Linked DNA regions of Homo sapiens: regions 2 and 3 are each linked to region 1. The links come from fine-mapping of genetic effects on gene expression. A gene starts in region 1. Each other region holds a variant in brackets. All regions are shown on one strand. Distances are from middle to middle. Region 1 holds the start of MAN2B1 (mannosidase alpha class 2B member 1). Region 2 overlaps ZNF791 (zinc finger protein 791). Region 3 overlaps LOC105372279 (a long non-coding RNA gene).

Region 1 (6,004 bases):
AGGTTGCAGTGAGCCGAGATCGCACCACTGCACTCCAGCCTGGGTGACAGAGTAAGACTGTCTCAAAAAAATTAAAAATAAGGAGAACGTGTTAGGGGATGCCTGTACCATGGAAAGAGCTCATTGTATTGTATATACCGGACTCGAAGGTTCTGGACACCAGGGTTACCTGGGCAGTGGCCACATTTAGGAAGTAATCGACCAGCTCCTTGGCGTTGTACTCGGGGCTGCGAGGGTCCTCCACCAGCGGCTGATCGACACACAGCACATCCCAGCACAGATTCCTTGGCGGGTTGTAACCATTGGGAAGCACACCTGCAGGTCACACCAAGTTCAAGGGGTGGCCCATCACCCAGACCTTCCCTGGTTTCAAAGCCGGCCATGTCCCACCCAGGATGGGCTTCAGAATTTGTGTCCCAATGCAAAAGGAAATGCAGGGCCTTTGTTCCCAGACTATAGGAATTCCAGGACAGTGACAACAGAGCAGATATCAAGCCCAGGGCCCTTCTGAGTGTGTGGCACCATGGCTGGCCCTGCCCTCACCAAGCCCCCTACCAGTGAAGAGGTCCGCGGTCGGGGGCTTCAGGCTGGTGCTGGCCCGCCACACCTGCTCCATCTCCAGCTTCTGCATCCGTACCCACTTATCTTGATAATCAAGGCGCCCAAAGAAGAAGCCGTCGAAGCCCATCTGGGGATGAGGGAGGAAAAGGCAGTGTGAATTAGTGCCCAGCCCTCTCACCACCAAACTCCCCTCTGCTTGGGAGGGGCAGGTCAGAGCACAGGTTAAAAAGCAGTGCTAGGTCGATGTGGTGGCTCTTGCCTATGATCCCAGCCTTCTGGGAGGCCAAAACAGGAGGATCACTTAAACCCAGGAGTTTTTGAGACCAGCCTGCACAACACGGGCAGACTGTCTACAAAAAATTTAAAAATTAGCCAGGCGTAGTGGTGCGCTCTTGTAGTCTCATCTACTAGGGGGGCTGAGACAGGAGAATCGCTTGAATCCGGGAGATTGAGGCTATAGTGAGTTAGGATTGCACCACTGCACTCCAGCCTGGATGACAGCAAGACCCTGTCTCAAAAAACAAAAACAAAAACACGTAGGGCTGAAACAGAGAGGCCTCCAGCTTATTTCCAAGCTTGGGGAAGTTTCAGAACTCACCACCTTGGGCTAGCAGGGAGAGGGCGGGTCCAACATCAGAACCCAGGTTCACCTCCCCAGCACTGTCAAAGCGCAGAGCAGGCCTGACTCCAGGAATGAGGTTCCCCCTTCCACAGCCTGAGGATGGATGGGGTCTGAGCACAGGTAATGAACCTGTTTTTAAGGCAGCCTAGGCATCCACTTGCCACCCGGTTTAGGGAGGAGCCAGGACCCGAGCTAGTGGGTGGGGCCAGAACACCAAGAGGGGCCTATTAGGGGAGAGGGCGGAGCCAGCCGGAGCTGGGTCAGCCTGGGCTGGGCATAGCCGGCTGAGGCCAGAGCTCAAAAGCCACTGGCTTTACGGCTCACTCAAGGGGCAGGGCTTCAACAGGCCTAGGCCTGGGCCTGGTCCTTGTGAGATTGCAGGGAGAGGGCGGGGTTTGACTGGGCGAGGGAGGAGCCAGAGTGAGTGAAGAAGTGGGCCCAAGAGAGGTCCCGGGTCGCACCTGCGCAAACAGCGAGGCCTGCTCCCGAGAGTGGCCGAAGGGGTCAATGTGCCAGGCCACACGGGGTCGCCCATCATTGCCAAATGTGTCCTCCAGAAAGCGCAGCCCAAGTGTCATCTGGTCCACGATGGCACCGTAGTGGGTGGCTGCCTCATCGTTCATCACCCAGCCACCATTGGCGAACTCCAGGCGCCCTGTGCCAGGACAGGCAAGGTCAGGGTCAGCGGTCAGAGCCAGGAGTGGGAGTAGGGTGGGTGATACTGGGAATGTGAAAGCCTGCCTGTGTACACATTTCTGGCGGAAGGACAAGAGGGGTCGCTCCCAGGCCATAGTTCCCAGATATGGGAAAGAGGCCCCCTGCATGGCAGGCTTCCCAGAGGATGCACAGCAGGTGGGGCTTTGTGGGATGTATAGGAGGTCTCCAAATGGAGAGTCCAGGCAGGCGGAGCGACACGCATGTTATACAGCTTGCACGTGGCATGACAAATCTCAGAAACCAGAGATGCAGAAGCAGAAGCTGGGCTGGGCTTCCTCTTTTCACTTCCTTGGGGTAGGCTCACCCTGGCGCACAAGGTCTCGCACGACTTCCTGTGTGGCATTTGTCTGCTGGTGCCACCAACGGGAGAAGAAGGCAATCTCCACGTAAATGAAGCGACGGGTGGGATCTGCCAGCAAGGCAGAGATGACCGAGTCCAGGATGTACTGCACACCGGCGTGCTGGATGTCATTCTTGACTGTGGATAACAGGGATAAGGCTCTCAGGGAACAGCAGAGCCAAGGGGGTTATTCCTAGACAGAGGAGCCCAAACCCTGGATATTAGGGTAGCACTGGCCCCACCCTAATGTCCAGGACCCAGAGGGATTACAGGGACCATGGGGATCCCAGGGACCAGTCCCCATCCTCTACTCACTTCCATAAAAGTACTGGTCCACGGTTTTGAGCCAGCCCACGTCATCATGTGTGTGAGGCAGCAGGTGCACGTTCAGCATGTTCGGCTGCACTGTGGGGCATGTCTGCACAGGGACCCCAAACACACATACCTTGTCAATAACCCCCGAGGTCGGGGGCTGCAGAGTAAGTCTTGATCTAGAGGTGAGTGACTCAGAGAGGCCTGATCTCGCCTATGTGCAGAGGAGGCCAGGCCCTCCCAGGCAGGACACACACATACATAGTTGTGCTCATAGATACAACTCCACTTTGCACAACCCCACAGGGCAGCTCTCATTCACACTCCGGGAAAATAATAATAGAAGTAGCTGATGTTTGTTCAGCATTTGCCGACAGCAGACGGCCACCGTGGGAGGTGGGGTGATGTTATCCCCAGTTTCCAGATGAAGGCACTGAGGCTTAGAGAGGATAGGTGACTTGCCCAACGTCACACACTCAGGAAGTGTAAGAGCTAGGCTGGAATTTCAGGCAGACTCCAGAGTCCCAGCTCTCAGCCAGCACCTCCCCCCACACATACACTGCTCACCCCCTGCCACCTCCTGCCCCTCCAATCCCACAGTTAAGTGCAGACAAAGTCTAGGCAAGCATCCCGGAGACACGGAGGCAGGTACAATCAGACACAGTCCTATACTCAGATGCGCACAGCCAGACCTCGCAATGACACAAAGCACGCACTCAGACCACACTGTCATATCATCAGCCATTCACTAGACACCCACAGGACAGACCCACCCACACCTCTAGACTGTATTCTGGGTTTCACTCTGCCTCCTGTACGTTTCAGCTCGGAGGCCCCACTCACCTCGTATCCCCCGGCCCGAGCACCGGCAGCCGCCAGCAACAAAAGGAAAAAGCAGAGAGGCGGGAGCGGTGGCCGCAGGGCGCGGGACATGGTCCAGGGGCCTGCTGAGTCCAGGCAGCCGCGAGCGCAGACCCCCGAAGCCCGCGCGTAGGCGCCCATGGCTCAGCAGCTTCCTCCTGGGGTTCCCCGGCCCTGGAAAGGCCGGGCAAACGCCCCGCCCCCAGACCCGGCCGGGCCAATCGGGGTGGGGGGCGGGGCCAGGGCGCGGTCTGGAGGCTCACGGGAGAGAGGCTGTAGCCCTGGGCAATCCCGGGGGTCGTTACAGGAAGGTAGGAAAATGCCACCCTCAGGGCACTGGTTGGGCTAAAGGTGACACTGGCGTCTCACGGGCTATGAAGACGGAATGCCTCTTAATGCCGGAATTCCAAGACGGAATGCCTCTTAATGCCGGTAGGAGCAGAAGTGCTTTTCCTAAGGGGGCCGGGTTTTCCTAGCCGGTGTAGTGTGTCCATGGGAATCCAGGGTGTCCGTCCCATGGACCTTCAGCGCTAGGGTCCTGGAAGGACCTAGCTTGCCTAAGAGGAGGATCTGATGAAGAGTCCTATACTGTGGGGATTGGGACGTTGGGTAAATACCCCTGGAGTACCAGGGATGGGATCCAGCCTGGTTGAGAAGGATCCCTGGGTGTTCCGGAGAGAAAAGAGGGTCTGACAAGTGGGGAAGGACCCCGAGTCTTTCATGCCTTTCCCAATTCCTACCAGTTCATTCTCTGATAAGAAAACAAAGCCCAGGGCAGGCGCAGTGGCTCAAGCCTGCAATCCCAGCACTTTGGGAGGGCCAGGCTGGTGAATCACTTGGGCCTGGGAGTTTGAGACCAGCCTGGGCAACATGGGTTGTTTTGTAGAGACGGGTTTGAAAACACAAAATTTGTAATTTTACACAAAATGTAAAAATACAAAAATTAGCTGGGCATGGTGGCACATGCCTGTAATCCCAGCTACTTGGGAGACTGAGGCAGGAGAATCACTTGAACCTGGGAGGCGGAGGTTGCAGTGAGCCGAGATCAAGATCATGCCATTGCCCTCCAGCCTGGGCAACAAGAGCAAAACTCTGTCTCAAAAAAAACAAGAATTAACTGGGCATGGTAGCACGCATTTGTGGTCCCAGTTACGTGGCAGGCTGAGGTGGGAGGATTGCTTGAGCCCAGGAGTTTGAGGCTGCAGTGAACATAGATTGTGCCACTGCACTCAGCCTGCATGACAGATCAAGACCATTTTCTTTCTTAAAAAGGAAAAAAAAAAAAGGAAACCAAAGCCTAGATTATCTAGGTCAGCAGGGCCATCTGGTGAGTTGCCAGAGGGCAGAAGTCACTGTCTTGTCCCTAGCACCTGACTTAAGACACAAGGTTTATGAAGTAAGCAAATGAACAGCCAGAAGCCTCCAGACTGGGGCCCCACACCAGGCCTATGGGGCTAGAGCCCTTCCCGCCAGGTAGGAGGAACACCCCACTGAACAGAAGAGGCTGACAGCCAGAGTGAAAAACTTTATTAACAACAGGTTTCAACGAGAAAGCAAATGAATACCCCTAGAAACATGGACAGCATCTCCCCCAGCAGCAGGCAGGGGAAGGGAGGCAGGAGGGGTAAGCCTAGGGTGTTCCCTAGGAAAGGGCCAGGTTCCCTCTATCCAGCTGGGGGCACCGAGACGGCCTCATTCAGGGAAGTCCAGGATGGCAGCTGAAGGCAGCAGGTTTAGCAGCCAAAGCCCAGGCCTAGTGGATAGACAGGGTCCAAAATGTGACCCTTCTAGGCTGGTATCACCATGGGGGCGTCATGGGCTGAGGATTCTGCAGATAGGACATCACCACGGCAGAGATGGACAGCCTGAGACAGGAGAGAGGTGTCAGTCTAGGATGGCCAGGCTGGGGTCCCCCCACCCCTTACTCAAGAGTCACTTGTTCTGTAGGGCAAGTCTCACATGAAGCTACTCATCATTTGCTTCGTGTCCTCCGAGCTCCGAGAGTTGGCAAAGCTGATGAAGGAGCAGTAGACAGCGACCCAAGCACACCACTTCAGCTAGGGAAAGGTAAGTGGGTGGGCAGGTTAGTGAAAGGCACAACAATGAGTCCCCGAAGCCACCTTTCCAGACACCAGATCATGCCCACTGATTCCATCTGATGCAGCTGGGACCTTGCCCCACCCGGAATTCCTCAGTCCCACCTGCTCATGGCATACTCTAGATACGTGGTTTCTAGTCCTACTGTCTGGCCTGCGTCTCTCAGGACCAAGAGAGACTCTGACATCCCACATGCTTAAGACCCTGCCCTTTTTCCACAACTCCTCTCCAAGTTGCTTCAAAGCCTGGCCCCACTCGCAGACCAATCTGCCACATCCCCAACCTGACTCGAATCCTTGACTTCACCAAAGACTGGGGCTTTCTCGGCCCAGCGTCATCGCAGCCCCACTCCCGGCCGATCTCAGGTCCCGCCCCATCAGCAATGACAAGACACCCCGCTTCATTCCAAACCCGCCCCCGGGCCTCGTTCTCAGGTCCAACTACACCCATAGAAGCTCAACCCCGCCCACCTTAAGCATGAGGCCGCACATGCT
Region 2 (7,467 bases), 47 kb before region 1:
ATACCTGATTTCTCTTATCGTTGAACAATATTTCATCATAAGATTGTACCGGCCGGGCACGATGGCTCATGCCTGTAATCCCAGCTCTTTGGGAGGCCGAGGCGGGCGGATCACAAGGTCAGGAGTTTGAGACCAGCCTGGCCAACATGACAAAACCCCGTCTCTACTAAAAATACAAAAATTAGCTGGGTGTGGTGGCGCACACCTGTAATCTCAGCTACCTGGGAGGCTGAGGCAGGAGAATTGCTTGAACCTGGAAGGTGGAGGTTGCAGTGAGCCGAGATAGTGCCATTGCACTCCAGCCTGGGCAACAAGAGCAAGACTCCGTCTCAAAAAAAAAAAAAAAAAAAAGATTGTACCACAGATTGTTTATCCATAAACCTGTTGCATGATGTCTTGGTTAAGTCTTAAATTTGGCAGTTATGAAGAAACCTCCTGTAAATATTCATGGGCAGGTTTTTGTATGAACAGTATTTTTCAACTCATGTGAGTAAATAGCAAGGAATGTGATTGCATGGTCCACTGGTAAGAGGACGTTTTGTTTTGTTAGAAACTGCCTATCTTCCAAAGTAGACATACCATTTTCCATTTCCATTGGCAAGGAATGAGAATTCTTGTTGTCTACATCTTTGCTATCCATTGCTGTTCTCAGCATTTTGAACTTTGTACGTTCTAATAAGTGTAAAGTGATATCTCTTCAGTTTTATTTGCAGCTCCTTAGTGACATATAATTGAGCATCTCTTCATATGTGTATTTGCCATCTGTATATCTTTCATTGGTGAGGGGTGTGTTCAGGTCTTTTGCTCATTTTTCACTGGTTCATTTGTCTTATTTTTGTTGAGATTTAAGAGTTCGAATTGGAGGCAGGCATGGTGGTACACGCTTGTCATCCCAGCTACTCCAGAGGCTAAAGTGGGAGGATTGCCTGCACCCAGGATTATAAGCCCAGCATGGGCAACATAATGGATCCTATCTCAAAAAAACAAAAAGGACGCTAGGCATGGTAGCTCATGTGGGGCCACCCAGGCTGCTGGGGAGCAGAGCTGAGAAGTGGTGCTGGGGCTGGAGCTGCCAAGGGATCGGAGAAAAAAAATTAGCCCAATGTGGGTGGCACACCCCTGTAGTCCCAGCTATTTGGGAGGCTGAGGCATGAGAATCGCTTGAGCCTAGGAGGCAGAGGTTGCAGTGAGCCGAGATTGCACCACTGCACTCCACCCTGGGCAACAGAGCAAGACTGTCTCAAAAAAAAAGAAAAACAAAAAGAATTCTTTGGATATTTTAGATACTAGTCCTTAATCAGATAAGTGCTTTTGTGAAGATTTGCAAAAATCTGTCTGTGCCTTTTATTTTTATTCTTTTAACACTTTCTTTCACAGAGTAGGAGTTTTTCATTTTAATGAAGTGAAACTTATTTTTTCCTTTCATAGATTGTGCTTTTAGTGGTTTATCTAAAAATTCATCACCAAAGCCAAGTGGATAGTTTTGCATGTTACATTTACATCTATGATCGATTTGGGCTTAATTTTTGTGAAAGGTGTAAGATCCATGTATAAATTTTTTGTGGGTGTATGAGAGTTTAATAGTATAAATTTCACTTAGGTACTATTTTTGTTGCATTCCACAAATTTTGATAAGTTCTATTTTCATTTAATTCACATTTAATTTTTCTTTTTTCTTCTTTTTTTTTTTTTTTTGAGACGGAGTCTTGCTGTGTCACTCAGGCTGGAGTGCAGTGGTGCAGTCTTGGCTCACTGCATCCTCCGCCTCCCGGGTTCAAGCGATTCTCCTGCCTCAACCTCTCAAGTAGCTGGGATTACAGGCACGTGCCACCATGCCTGTCTAATTTTTTTATTTTTAGTAGAGATGGGGTTTCACCATGTTGGCCAGGCTGGTCTCGAACTCCTGACCTCGTGATCCGCCCACCTTGGCCCCCCAGAGTGCTGGGATTACAGGCATGAGTCACTGCGCCCGGCCCAAATTTAATTTTTCTTGAGATTTTTTTGATTCATGTTTAGAACTGTGTTGGGTTTTATTTCCAAATATTTGATGGTTTTCTAACTATTCTTCTGTTACTGATTTCTAGATTAATACCATGGTGGTCTGAGAGCATATTTTATATAATGTATATTCTTTGAAAATTGTTAAGGTGTGTTTTTGTCCACAACATGGTTTATCTTGGTGAATGTTCCACATGAACTTGAGAAGAATGTGTGTTGTTCTGTTGGATGAAGCATTCATGGATTTTAATTAAACCCAGTTGTTGCCTTTCAACTAAACTTTGTCCTTTCTGATTTTCTACCTGCTGGAACTCTTTTTTTTTTTTTTTTTTTTTTTTGGAGACAGGGTATTACCCTGTCACCAGGCTGGAATGCAGTGGCATGATCTCAGCCTACTACAACCACCACCTCAGCCTTCTGAGTAGCTGGAACTACAGGTGCGTGCCACATACAGGGCTAAATTTTGCTTTTTTTTTTTTTTTTTTTTTGAGACAGAGTTTCGTCCTTGTCGCCCAGGCTGGAGTGCAGAGGCAAGAACTCAGCTCACTGCAACCTCCATCCACTGGGTTCAAGCGATTCTCCTGCCTCAGCTTCACAGGTAGCTGGGATTACAGGTGCACACCATCATGCCCGGCTAATTTTTGTATTTTTAGTAGAGATGGAGTTTCACCATGTTGGCTAGGCTGGTCTCCAACTCCTGACATCAGGTGATCCACCCACCTTGGCTTTGCAAGGTGCTGGGATTACAGGCGTGAGCCACCACGTCCACCAACCATCTATTCTTTTTCACAAGTATTGTATTTTTAAATTTTTGCCTCCTTTGAACATTTAATGAGTATTAATGGAATTACACTTAAAGGGTTTTTTGGAGCCTAGGCAACATAGTGAGACCCATCTTTACAAAAAATGAAAAAATTAGCCAGGCATGGTGATGCACACCTGTAGTCCCAGCTACTCAGGAGTCTGAGGCGGGAAGATTGCTTGAGCCCGGGAAGTCGAGGCTGCTGTGAGCCGTGACTGCACCACTGTACTCTAGCCTGGGCAACAATGAGACCCCGTCTCAAAAATAAAATAAAGGCCGAGTGTGGTGGCTCGCGCCTGAGGCTAGGAGTTCAAGACCAGCCTGGCCAACATGGTGAAACCCTGTCTCTACTAAAATACAAAAAATTAGCTGGGTATGGTGGTGCGTGCCTGTAATCCCAGCTACTCAGGAGGCTGAGACAGGAGAATTGCTTGAACCCGGGAGGCGGAGGCTGCAGTGAGCCGAGATCATGCCACTGCACTCCACCCTGGGGAACAAGAGCAAAACTCCACCTCAAAATAAATAAATAAATAATTTTGTGGTGATTTGTTTACCTCTC[AGTGTGTGTGTGTGT/A]GTGTGTGTGTGTGTGTGTGTGTGTGTGTATTTATTTATTTTTTTGAGATGGAGTCTCACTCTGTTGCCAGGCTGGAGTGCAGTGGTGTGATCTCAGCTCACTGCAACCTCCGCCTCCTGGGTTCAAGCGATTCTCCTGCTTCAGCCTCCCGAGTAGCTGGGACTACAGGCATGAGCCACCATGCCCAGCTAATTTTTGTATTTTTAGTAGCGACGGAGTTTCACCATGTTGGTCAGGATGGTCTCAGTCTCGACCTCGTGATCCACCCACCTAGGCCTCCCAAAGTGCTAGGGATTACAGGCGTGAGCCACCACGCCTGGCCACCTCTCAGTATATTTCTCATATGCTAGTATCTGAAGCTGCAGGCTATCCGTTCCAATGGTTGTGGTGTTTAGACTTTTTCACGGTTTTGTTTTTGTTTGCTTTGTGGAAAATAATGCTCCTACTATTTTTGTTTCAGTCTGCAAGTGCAAACGCACAATAAATTCTCTGGTAGTTGGAAAAAAATTACTGGATCTTGGTCAAGTTTAAATTTACAAACTTAAAAAAAGTGGTGGAGTGTATCAGTTGATCCTCCGTTTGTACATGATTGTTCTCTGTAGTCATCAACACTAATGTTATCTTTTTTTTTTTTTTTTTTTTTTTGAGACGGAGTCTCGATTTGTCTCCCAGGCTGGAGTGCAGTGGCGCGATCTGGGCTCACTGCAAGCTCCGCCTCCCGTGTTCACGCCATTCTCCTGCCTCAGCCTCTCGACTAGCTGGGACTACAGGCGCCCGCCACTTCTCCTGGCTAATTTTTTGTATTTTTAGTAGAGACGGGGTTTCACTGTGTTAGCCAGGATGCTCTCGATCTCCTGACCTCATGATCTACCTGCCTCGGCCTCCCCAAGTGCTGGGATTACAGGCGTGAGCCACCGCGCCCGGCCACTAATGTTATCTTAATCGACTAGTTTTGTCTTCCTACTCAGTTTGAAGTGGGAACTATTTGACATTTATATCCTCATTAGCAAGGAGATGAACCTTTTTTTTCTGTTTTTTTTTCTTTTTATTATTTAGTAAAAGGCTATATATGAAATCTTTATTTATTTATTTATTTTTATTTTATTTATTTATTTTTTTGAGACGGAGTCTCGCTCTGTCGCCCAGGTTGGAGTGCAGTGGCGCGATCTCGGCTCACTGCAAGCTCCGCCTCCCGGGTTCCCGCCATTCTCCTGCCTCAGCCTCCCGAGTAGCTGGGACTACAGGCGCCCGCCACGGCACCCAGCTAATTTTTTGTATTTTTAGTAGAGCCAGGATGGTCTCGATCTTCTGACCTCGTGATCCACCTGCCTTGGCCTCCCAAAGTGCTGGGATTACAGGTGTGAGCCACCGCACCTGGCCTGTCTTTATTTATTTTTGGCTGGAGTGCAGTGGTATAGTTATGGCTCACTGCAGCCTTGACTTTGCAGGCTCAAGCAATCCTCCCACCTCAGCCTCCCAAGTAGCTGAGACCACAGGCGTGCACCACCACGCCTGGCCAAGTTTTGTATATTTTATAGAGACAGGGTTTCACCATGTTGCCCAGGCTGGTCTCGAACTCCTGGGCTCAAACGATCTGCCCACCTCAGCCTCCCAAAGTGCTGGGATTATAGGCATGAGCCATCACGCCTGGCCAAAATGTTTATTTTCTATTAAATGTAAATGTAAATAAACCTTACAGAGAGCACCCAGGCATGCAGATGGACTTGTCACGAGGGAGAGCTCCCTGGAGCCAAATTTCTTCCTGCTCAGACCATAGTCCTAATTACTTAAGAAAACCCCTTCTAACTGTGTGGATCTTTTAACGTATGGTGCACATGAGTGCATGGAAATGAGAGAACCTGGGACAACAGCCCCTAGAGTGTCTGTCTGGGATCACTTCCTCCTGAAACTGGAGAAAGGGGATTTATGTTCTTTTTTTTTTTTTTTTTTTTTTTTGAGATAGAGTCTCGCTCTGTTGCCCAGGCTGGACTGCAGTGGTGCGATCTTGGCTCACTGCAACCTCTGCCTCCCGGGTTCAAGCGATTCTCCTGCCTCTGCCTCCCGAGTAGCTGAGATTACATGCATGCACCACCATGCCCAACTAATTTTTGTATTTTTAGTAGAGGCAGGGTTTCTCCATGTTGGCCAGGGTGGTCTCGAACTCCTGACCTGAGGTGATCCACCTGCCTCGGCCTCCCACAGTGCTGGGATTACAGGCATGAGCCATCCTGACCCAGATTTTATGTTCTTTTGGAGGTATGAAATTACCTGTTAATTTTATAATCATGGGCAAATTCACCATCAGACCATTGTGGACATCAGTGAAGTCCCCTGAAAATTGATACTGTCAATCTATTCTTCAAGGTCAGCAAAGCCCAGATGACATGATTATGGATCTTCCAGAAAGTGCTCTTCTGACATTTTATCTCAATGTGTATATGTATTTGTGCTAAAAATTGGTTGGAAGCAGTTCTGAGGCTCATGGGTATAACGATTTTGTGAAAGTCTAAGTTGTGAGGGCCCCTTCCTTGTGCCTGAGCTGTCTTCCCAGTAACTTCCTAGTCTCACGAAATGGGACAGAAAGTAAAAGGAAAAACTGGGTCTATGATAGATATTACACACACAGCCGGGCGTGGTCGCTCATGCCTGTAATGCCAACACATAGGGATATATATATATCGGAAACAAGTTGAAATTAATACGTCTCTAAAAGAGTATTTCCATTCAGTCAGCAGAATCTGAGTGCTTCTGATGGCCTCAAATACTTCAGGACGATATAGGCAGCTAGACCTTCTTAAAAGTTGGATTTCCACAAGCCTCCTGGCCTCTCATGTATAACAAAAGGGGATAGAAGATTCTCAATGTGTATTTACTTATTAAAACCTCCACCTCGGTGGGGGGTCAGCCCCCCTGCCCGGCCAGCCGCCCCGTCCGGGAGGGAGGTGGGGGGGGTCAGCCCCCCCGCCCGGCCAGCCGCCCCGTCCGGGAGGTGAGGGGCGCCTCTGCCCGGCCACCACCCCGTCTGGGAGGTGTGCCTAACAGCTCATTGAGAACGGGCCAGGATGACAATGGCGGCTTTGTGGAATAGAAAGGCGGGAAAAGTGGGGAAAAGATTGAGAAATCGGATGGTTGCCGTGTCTGTGTAGAAAGTAGACATGGGAGACTTTTCATTTTGTTCTGCACTAAGAAAAATTCCTCTGCCTTGGGATCCTGTTGATCTGTGACCTTACCCCCAACCCTGTGCTCTCTGAAACATGTGCTGTGTCCACTCAGAGTTAAATGGATTAAGGGCGGTGCAAGATGTGCTTTGTTAAACAGATGCTTGAAGGCAGCATGCTCGTTAAGAGTCATCACCACTCCCTAATCTCAAGTAATCAGGGACACAAACACTGCGGAAGGCCGCAGGGTCCTCTGCCTAGGAAAACCAGAGACCTTTGTTCACTTGTTTATCTGCTGACCTTCCCTCCACTATTGTCCCATGACCCTGTCAAATCCCCCTCTGTGAGAAACACCCAAGAATTATCAATAAAAAAATAAATTAAAAAAAATAATAAATAAAAAAAATAATAAAAAAAAGACTGTCTCAAACAAAAAAAAAAAAAAAAAAAAACCTCCACCTCATTTAATCCCATATCTTAAGGAATGCTGAATGATTTGGGTAATAAGAAATTAGGCTGTGGGCTGGGTATGGTTATTCATACCTGTTATCACAACACTTTGGGAGGCCGGGGCAGGAGGATCACTTGGGGCCGAGAGTTAAAGGTCAACCTGGACAATATAACAAAACCCCAGCCGGAGGCAGTGGCTCACGCCTGTAATCCCAGCACTTTGGGTGGCCGAGGAGGGTGGATCACGAGGTCGGGAGTTCAAGACCAGCCTAGCCAAGATGGTGAAACCCCATCTCTACTAAAAATACAAAAAATTAGCTGGGCGTGGTGGCACGCGCCTATAATCCCAGCTACTTCGGAGGCTGAGGCAGAGAATTGCTTAAACCTGGAGGGGCGGAGGTTGCAGTGAGCCGAGATCGCACCACTGCACTCCTGCCTGGGTTACAGAGTGAGACTCCGTCTCAAAAAAAAAAAAAAAAAGAAAG
Region 3 (6,509 bases), 28 kb before region 1:
GAAAATTTGAATGAGGCCGTACTGGGTGCCTCATGCCTGTCATCTCAACACTTTAGGAGGCTGAGGTGGGAGGATGGTTTGTGCCCAGGAGTTCCACGTGGCAGTGAGCTGTGATTACACCACTGCACAGCAACCTGGGCGACAGTGAGGCTCAGTCGTGTTGAAAAAAGAAAAGACAGAGAGAGAAAGAAAAGAAAAAGAGAGAAAGAAAGAAAAAGAAAGGAAAGAGAAAGAAAGCAAAAGAAAGAAAAGCAGAGATATGAGAGAAGGAAGGAAGGAAGGGAAGGAGAAAAAAGGAAAAAAAAAAAGAACTGAGACCCCATCTCTACAAAAGTAAAAAATTAGCTGGGTGTGGTGGGGCACACCTGTGATTCCAGCTACTCCAGAGGCTGAGGTGGGAGGATGGCTTGAGCCCAAGAGTTCGAGCCTGCAGTGAGCCATGATCATGCCACTGCACTCAGACCTGGGTGACACAGTTCATGTCAGCCACCTTCCAAAACAGGCAAGAATGCTATGTGTGTCATAGCCTATAATTTGTACCACATTAAGGTTGCTTTGATCTAGGGCAGAACTTATGAGTCCTTTTTTTTTTTTTTTTTTTTTTTGAGAAGGAGTCTTGCTCTGCCACCCAGGCTGGAGTGCAGTGGCGCGATATTGGCTCACTGCAAGCTCCGCCTCCTGGGTTCACGCCATTCTCCCACCTCAGCCTCCTGAGTAGCTGGGACTATAGGCACCCGCCACCATGCCTGGCTAATTTTGTTTTTATATTTTTAGTAGAGATGGGGTTTCACCGTGTTAGTCAGGATGGTCCCGATCTCCTGACCTCGTGATCCGCCCGCCTCGGCCTCCCAAAGTGCTGAGATTACAGGCGTGAGCCACTGCACCCGGCCAAAGCACCATTCTCTAAAATCCCCACCAAGCCTTTGTCTCCTTGCAGTTAGCTCCTCTCTGGGTGTGCTGCCTGGTGGAACCCTGTAATGTATTTTCTTTCTTTCTTTCCTTTTTTTTTTTTTTTTTTTTTTTTTGAGACGGAGTCTCACTCTGTCGCCCAGGCTGAAGTGCAGTGGTGCGATACCGGCTCACTGCAACCTCCGCCCCCCGGGTTCAAGCGATTCTCCTGCCTCAGCCTCCCGAGTGGCTGGGATTACAGGCGCCCGCCACCGCGCCCGGCTAATTTTTATATTTTTAGTAGAGACGGGATTTCACCATGTTGGCCAGGCTGGTCTCAAATTCCTGACCTCAGGTGATCCACCTGCCTCAGCCTCCCAAAGTGCTGGGATTACAGACGTGAGCCACCGCGCCCGGCCAACCTTGTCTCTTAAAAGTAAAAACAAAATGAGAGATAAGAAGAAATATTTTTGGAAGGCGCACAGGGGAATAAAGCCACCAGGGCATTTTAATCATAAACTCCTTGTCCCATCAAGGCCATCCCTACCCTTTGCCCTCCCCTCCCCAAGACCTACCCTGCCCCGCCCCATCCTGGCCCCCTCCAGCCTTCATCCCCCTTTTTCCCCTCTTTCCCCACTTTGTCTCCTCTTCCCCACTTTATCACCTCTTGCCCCTGTGCGGCCCCGCCGAACTGGAAACGTTTCCAGCAGGTGATTCAGATGCGCCTGTGCAGGACTGTGACCAGGTGCAAGTCGCCCTCCCCTGACCTCCCTGTTTAGCCTGAATGATCCTTCCCAAGTGTGTTGCTCCATTCTCGCGCTGCTATAAAGAACTACCTGAGCTGGGCGCGATGGCTCACGCCTGTAATCACAGCACTTTGGGAGGCTGAGGCGGGTGGATCACCTGAGGTCAGGAGTTTGAGACCAGCCTGACTAACATGGTGAAACCCCATCTCTACTACTAATAATAAAAAAATTAGCCGGGCGTCATGGCTCACGTCTGTAATTCCAGCTACTCAGGAGGCTCAAGCAGGAGAATCCCTTGAACCCGGGAGGCAGAGGTTGCAGTGAGCGGGGATCACGTCATTGCACTCCAGCCTGGGCAACAAGAGTGAAACTCCGTCTCAAAAAAAAGAAAAAAGAAAAAAACTACCTGAGGCTGGGTAATTCACGAATAAAAGAGGTTTAATTGACTCACAGTTCTGCAGGCTGTACAGGAAGCAAGGCTGGGAGGCCTCAGGAAACTTATCAAGGCGGAAGGCTACTGGGGATCGAGTCAGTCTTCACTTGAAGCAGGAGGGATCAGGAGAGAGCACGAAGTGGGAAGTGCCGCACATCTTTAAACCATCAGATCTCCTGAGAACTATCACGAGAACAGCAAGGGGAAAGCCGCCCCCATGATCTAATCACCTCCCAGCAGGTCCCTCTCCTGGTATTAGAAATTAAAATTGAACATGAGATTTGGTTGGGGACACACAGCCAAACCATATCACCAAGGTTTTCTGTAAGTGTCTGATGAATACGCACAGTGGGAACTGCAGCTGAGCTTTAGGTGGCATCCTAAAAGCCTCTTTGTCAGCCTGAGCCCGTGTCCTCTTAAGAGGGAGAGTTGGGGCTGGGTGCGGTGGCTCACGCCTGTAATCCCAGCACTTTGAGAGACCGAGGCGGGTGGATCATGAGGTCAGGAGTTCCAGAGCAGCTGGCCAACATGATGAAACCCCGTCCGTACTAAAAATACAAAAATTAGCCGGGCGTGGTGGCGGGCGCCTGTAATCCCAGCTACTTGGGAGGCTGAGGCAGGAGAATCGCTTGAACCCAGGAGGCAGAGGTTGCAGTGAGCCGAGATTACACCACCGCACTCCAGCCTGGGCAACAGAGCGAGACTCTCTCAAAAAAAAAAAACAAAAAAAAAAAACGGGGTGGGCGACTTGGAAAAGATTTCAGGACTCACTCTCAGCGACGGTGCCCCACGTGAGTTGGAGGCCAGGAGCAAGGTGCCTTCCTGGGCCTCCCTGGCTGCGATCCTGTCCTCAGGAGGGCGACCCCAGTCACGTGCGACCGCTCAAGGCGGTCCTCAGAAGCGGAGGGGACCTCCGCGGGCCAGTAGGCCTTCAGAATTCTTAGAAATCACTCACCCCCGTCCTGCAGTGACAATCTCAGGAGAGCCTGTCTACAGACTGGCGCCTGTAGAGAAGATCCTGCCATTGCCCCTGGCTTCCAGGAACTGAACTGGATTCTGAGCATCATGGCAGAATCTTATCCCACCTATGCAGCAGGCTAGCTCCAGGGAGAAAATATAAACGTCAGGCCGGGCGTGGTGGCTCACGCCTGTAATCCTAGCACTTTGAGAGGCCGAGGCAGGCGTATCACGAGGTCAGGAGATCGAGACCTTCCTGGCTAACACAGTGAAACCCCATCTCTATTAAAAATACAAAAAATTATTCAGGCGTGGTGGCGGGCGCCTGTAGTCCCAGCTACTCGGGAGGCTGAGGCAGAAGAATGACGTGAACCCGGGAGGCGGAGCTTGCAGGGAGCCAAGATGGCGCCACTGCACTCCAGCCTGGGCGACAGAGCCAGACTCCGTCTCAAAAAAAAAAAAAAAAAAGAAAAGAAAATATAAACGCCAACAAACAGGTAATTCCCAATCACCGGCAAGACCCCGCCGGATTGGACCCCGACCCTCAGCAGAGGCCACCTTGTCCGGGTCTCACTCTAACCTGTACCGCGGCCCCAAGATATCAGAGGCTGCCTTGGTGGACCCGGGGCACTTTCCACAGAACTCCCTGAATGGCCAAGGCTGGCCCTGGCCTCAATAGGCCAACTCAGCAAACGTGGAGAAGGCAGGGAACGGTGGGTAAGGGAAGTCATCCCAACATTTTGGGAGTCCGAGGCGTTATATGGCTTGAACCCAGGAGTTCAAGATCAGCCTGGGCAATATAGCAAGACCCCATCCTTTTTTGAGACTGAGTCTTGCTCTGTCGTCCAGGCGGGAGTGCAGTGGTGCAATCTCAGCTTACTGCAACCTCTACCTCCCAGGTTTGAGCGATTCTCCTGCCTCAACCTCCTAAGTAGCTGGAATTACAGTTGCCCGCCACCACGCTCGGCTAATTTGTTTTTTGTTTTTTGTTTTTTGCTTTTGAGACGGAGTCTTGCTCTGTCGCCCAGGCTGGAGTGCCGTGGCGCAATCTCGGCTCACTGCAAGCTCCCCTTCCGGGGTTCATGCCATTCTCCTGCCTCAGCCTCCCGAGTAGCTGGGACTACAGGCACCCGCCACCACACCCGGCTGTTTTTTTGTATTTATAGTAGAGACGGGGTTTCACCATGTTAGACAGGATGGTCTCGATATCCTGACCTCGTGATCCGCCCGCTTCAGCCTCCCAAAGTGCTGGGATTACAGGCGTGAGCCACCGGGCCCAGC[CT/C]TTTTTTTTTTATTTTTAGTAGAGACAGGTTTCACCATGTTGGCCAGGCTGGTCTGGAACTCGTGACCTCAAGAGATCCACCCACCTCGGCCTCCCAAAGTGTTGGGATTACAGGAGTGAGCCACCGCAACTGGCTACCATTTCTAATAAAAGCAAACTTTTGTTCAAGTGTATTCATCAAAAAGGCCCCTCGCATGTGACCACAGCCAAGCCAGGAAGCCTTCTTCAGGTATCCCTAGCCAGCCTGCAGGAGGTCTTGGAAACTTGTTCAACGGATAAATATAACTGGGCCCACAAAGAATCACAGGAATACTTAATCCCTCCAGCCTCCAGGGCCAGCCTGGCCCCAGCTGTGTAGGGGGGCTTAGAAGTGTCTTCAGGACTCATCTAACTACCAGGCCCAATCTGGCGGTGGGCAGAACCTGGGGCCCTTCCCACAGCAGTCCGAGGACCTTCCTGACTGTGATCCTGGCCCCAGCAGGGGGACCTAGAAAACGCCAATGAAGCTGTGGGCAAGCAGGCACCAGGTGGGAAAGCGGCCAAGCTCAGGGCACCCTACTCCGCTCACCTGCGACGGCAGCAGCCAGTCCCCACGGGCGGAGGGGACCTCATGCGACATTCAGCCCGCGAGATTCTCAGAGACTGCTCGCCCGCAACACGCAGTAACGATCTCAGGAGAGCCCATGATGGGGCGGCGCGTGTCGTAGCCGAGAAGACTCTGTCATCGCCGGCGACCTCCTGGAACTCTCTCTTGCGGTTTGCAGCCAGATCACTTCCCATACACGCGGCAGCCAAGCTCAGGGGATGGCATCAGACTGACCCTAGGTGGCGCTCGAACACCCGCCGGACCTCACCAGACAGGCACTTTCCCCAGTCTACACCGCCTGGTTCGGGTCCCACATGAACCTGTAATACACTCGGCCCAAAGCGGTCAGAGGATGGCCTGGTGGGCCCGGGGCACCCTCCACGGAACTCCCTGAATGGCCAGGGCTGATCCCAGCCTCCATAGGCAGACAGAAAATGTGAATGAAGCCCTGCTGGATGCCTCATGCCTACCACCTCAACACTTTGGGAGGCCGAGGCGGGAGGAGAGATGTGCCCTGGAGATGATGCAGTGCGCTATGATCGCATCATTGCACAGCAGCCTGGGTGACAGCGAGACTCGGTCGCGGGAAAAATAAAACAAAAAACAAAAACAAACCAAAAAAAATGAAAGAGAGAGGGAGAGGGAGGGTGGAAGGAGGGAGGAAGGAAGGGAGAGAGGGAGGGAGGGAAGGAGGGAAAAAGAAAGAGAAAAGGAAAAAGAGGCCGGGCGCGGCGGCTCACGCCTGTAATCCCAGCACTTTGGGAGGCCGAGGCGGGCAGCTCACCTGAAATTGGGAGTTCGAGACCAGCCTGACCAACATGGAGAAAACCCTTCTCTACTAAAAATACAAAAATTAGCTGGGTGTGGTGGCGCATGCCTGTAATCCCAGCTACTAGGGAGGCTCAGGTAGGAGAATCGTTTGAACCCGGGAAGAGCAGGTTGCAGTGAGCCAAGATCCCGCCATTGCACTCCAGCCTGGGCAACAAGAGTAAAACTCTGTCTCAAAACAAAACACCAAAAAAAAAAATAAATAAAAAATAACCCACAAGAGTGAAAGTCTGTCTCAAAAAAAAGGAAAGAAAATGAAGAAGAACATTCAAGATGGAAGGAAGGGAGGGAAGGGAAAGAAAGAAAGGAGGGAGGGAGTGAGGGAGGGAAAGAAAAAGAAAGAGAAAAGAAAAAAAAGGAACATTTGGGAAGGCCCACAGGGGAATGAAGCCACAACAATATCCTACTCAGAACCTCCTTCTCCCATCAAAACCATCCCTCTACCTCCCCTTCCCCCTGCTTTCCCCGCCACTGCTTCTGCGGCTCCCAGTGATCCCCCTCCTTTTACCCTCCCCGTCCCTCTCTTCATGCCCCTATTCCTATCTCCTATCACTCAGAATTGGCAACGTTTTCAGCAGGTGCTTCAGACGCGTCTGCATAGGACTGTGACCAAGTCCAAGTCGCCCACCCTTAGCCCTCCCTGTTTGGCCCCAGTCATCCCTCCAGACGTTTTCTGAAGGTGTCCGATGAATGGTCGCCATGGAAACTGCAGCTGGGGTCTGGGTGCCCTCCTTCATCCTCCCTGTATGCCTGGGCGAGTGTCCCTTCTTAAAAGGGGCCTTGGGAAAA

What was found. PIP is the estimated chance that this variant, and not a neighbour inherited with it, causes the effect.
Region 2: its variant is the best candidate, but not a certain one, in a credible set for the expression of MAN2B1 in monocytes (BLUEPRINT, PIP 0.65).
Region 3: its variant is the best candidate, but not a certain one, in a credible set for the expression of MAN2B1 in whole blood (INTERVAL, PIP 0.87).

The regions. Positions count from the first base shown.
Region 1 is chr19:12,663,148-12,669,151 of GRCh38, forward strand. It overlaps MAN2B1 (mannosidase alpha class 2B member 1), which reads right to left and starts at 3,595. Exons shown (of 24, transcript NM_000528.4): 1 at 3,396-3,595; 2 at 2,556-2,658; 3 at 2,205-2,378; 4 at 1,645-1,838; 5 at 556-688; 6 at 170-315. The coding sequence starts at 3,554. WDR83 (WD repeat domain 83) reads left to right here and starts at 3,660. Exons shown (of 11, transcript NM_001099737.3): 1 at 3,660-3,845; 2 at 5,361-5,480. It overlaps WDR83OS (WD repeat domain 83 opposite strand), which reads right to left. Exons shown (of 4, transcript NM_016145.4): 2 at 5,981-6,004; 3 at 5,373-5,470; 4 at 4,926-5,278. The coding sequence ends at 5,212. RefSeq lists enhancers at 1,265-2,213, 2,038-2,087, 2,214-3,161, 2,228-2,277, 2,818-2,867 and 2 more and a silencer at 3,458-3,737.
Region 2 is chr19:12,615,449-12,622,915 of GRCh38, forward strand. All of the region lies in intron 1 of ZNF791 (zinc finger protein 791), which reads left to right. Among named protein-coding and RNA genes, the nearest start is that of ZNF791, 8.3 kb to the left of the region's middle. The variant AGTGTGTGTGTGTGT/A (reference allele first, on the strand shown) is at 3,360.
Region 3 is chr19:12,635,191-12,641,699 of GRCh38, forward strand. LOC105372279 (a long non-coding RNA gene) reads right to left here. Exons shown (of 4, transcript XR_007067142.1): 2 at 4,875-5,212; 3 at 2,086-2,250. Among named protein-coding and RNA genes, the nearest start is that of ZNF791, 28 kb to the left of the region's middle. RefSeq lists enhancers at 4,816-4,885, 4,839-5,359, 4,916-5,035. The variant CT/C (reference allele first, on the strand shown) is at 4,306.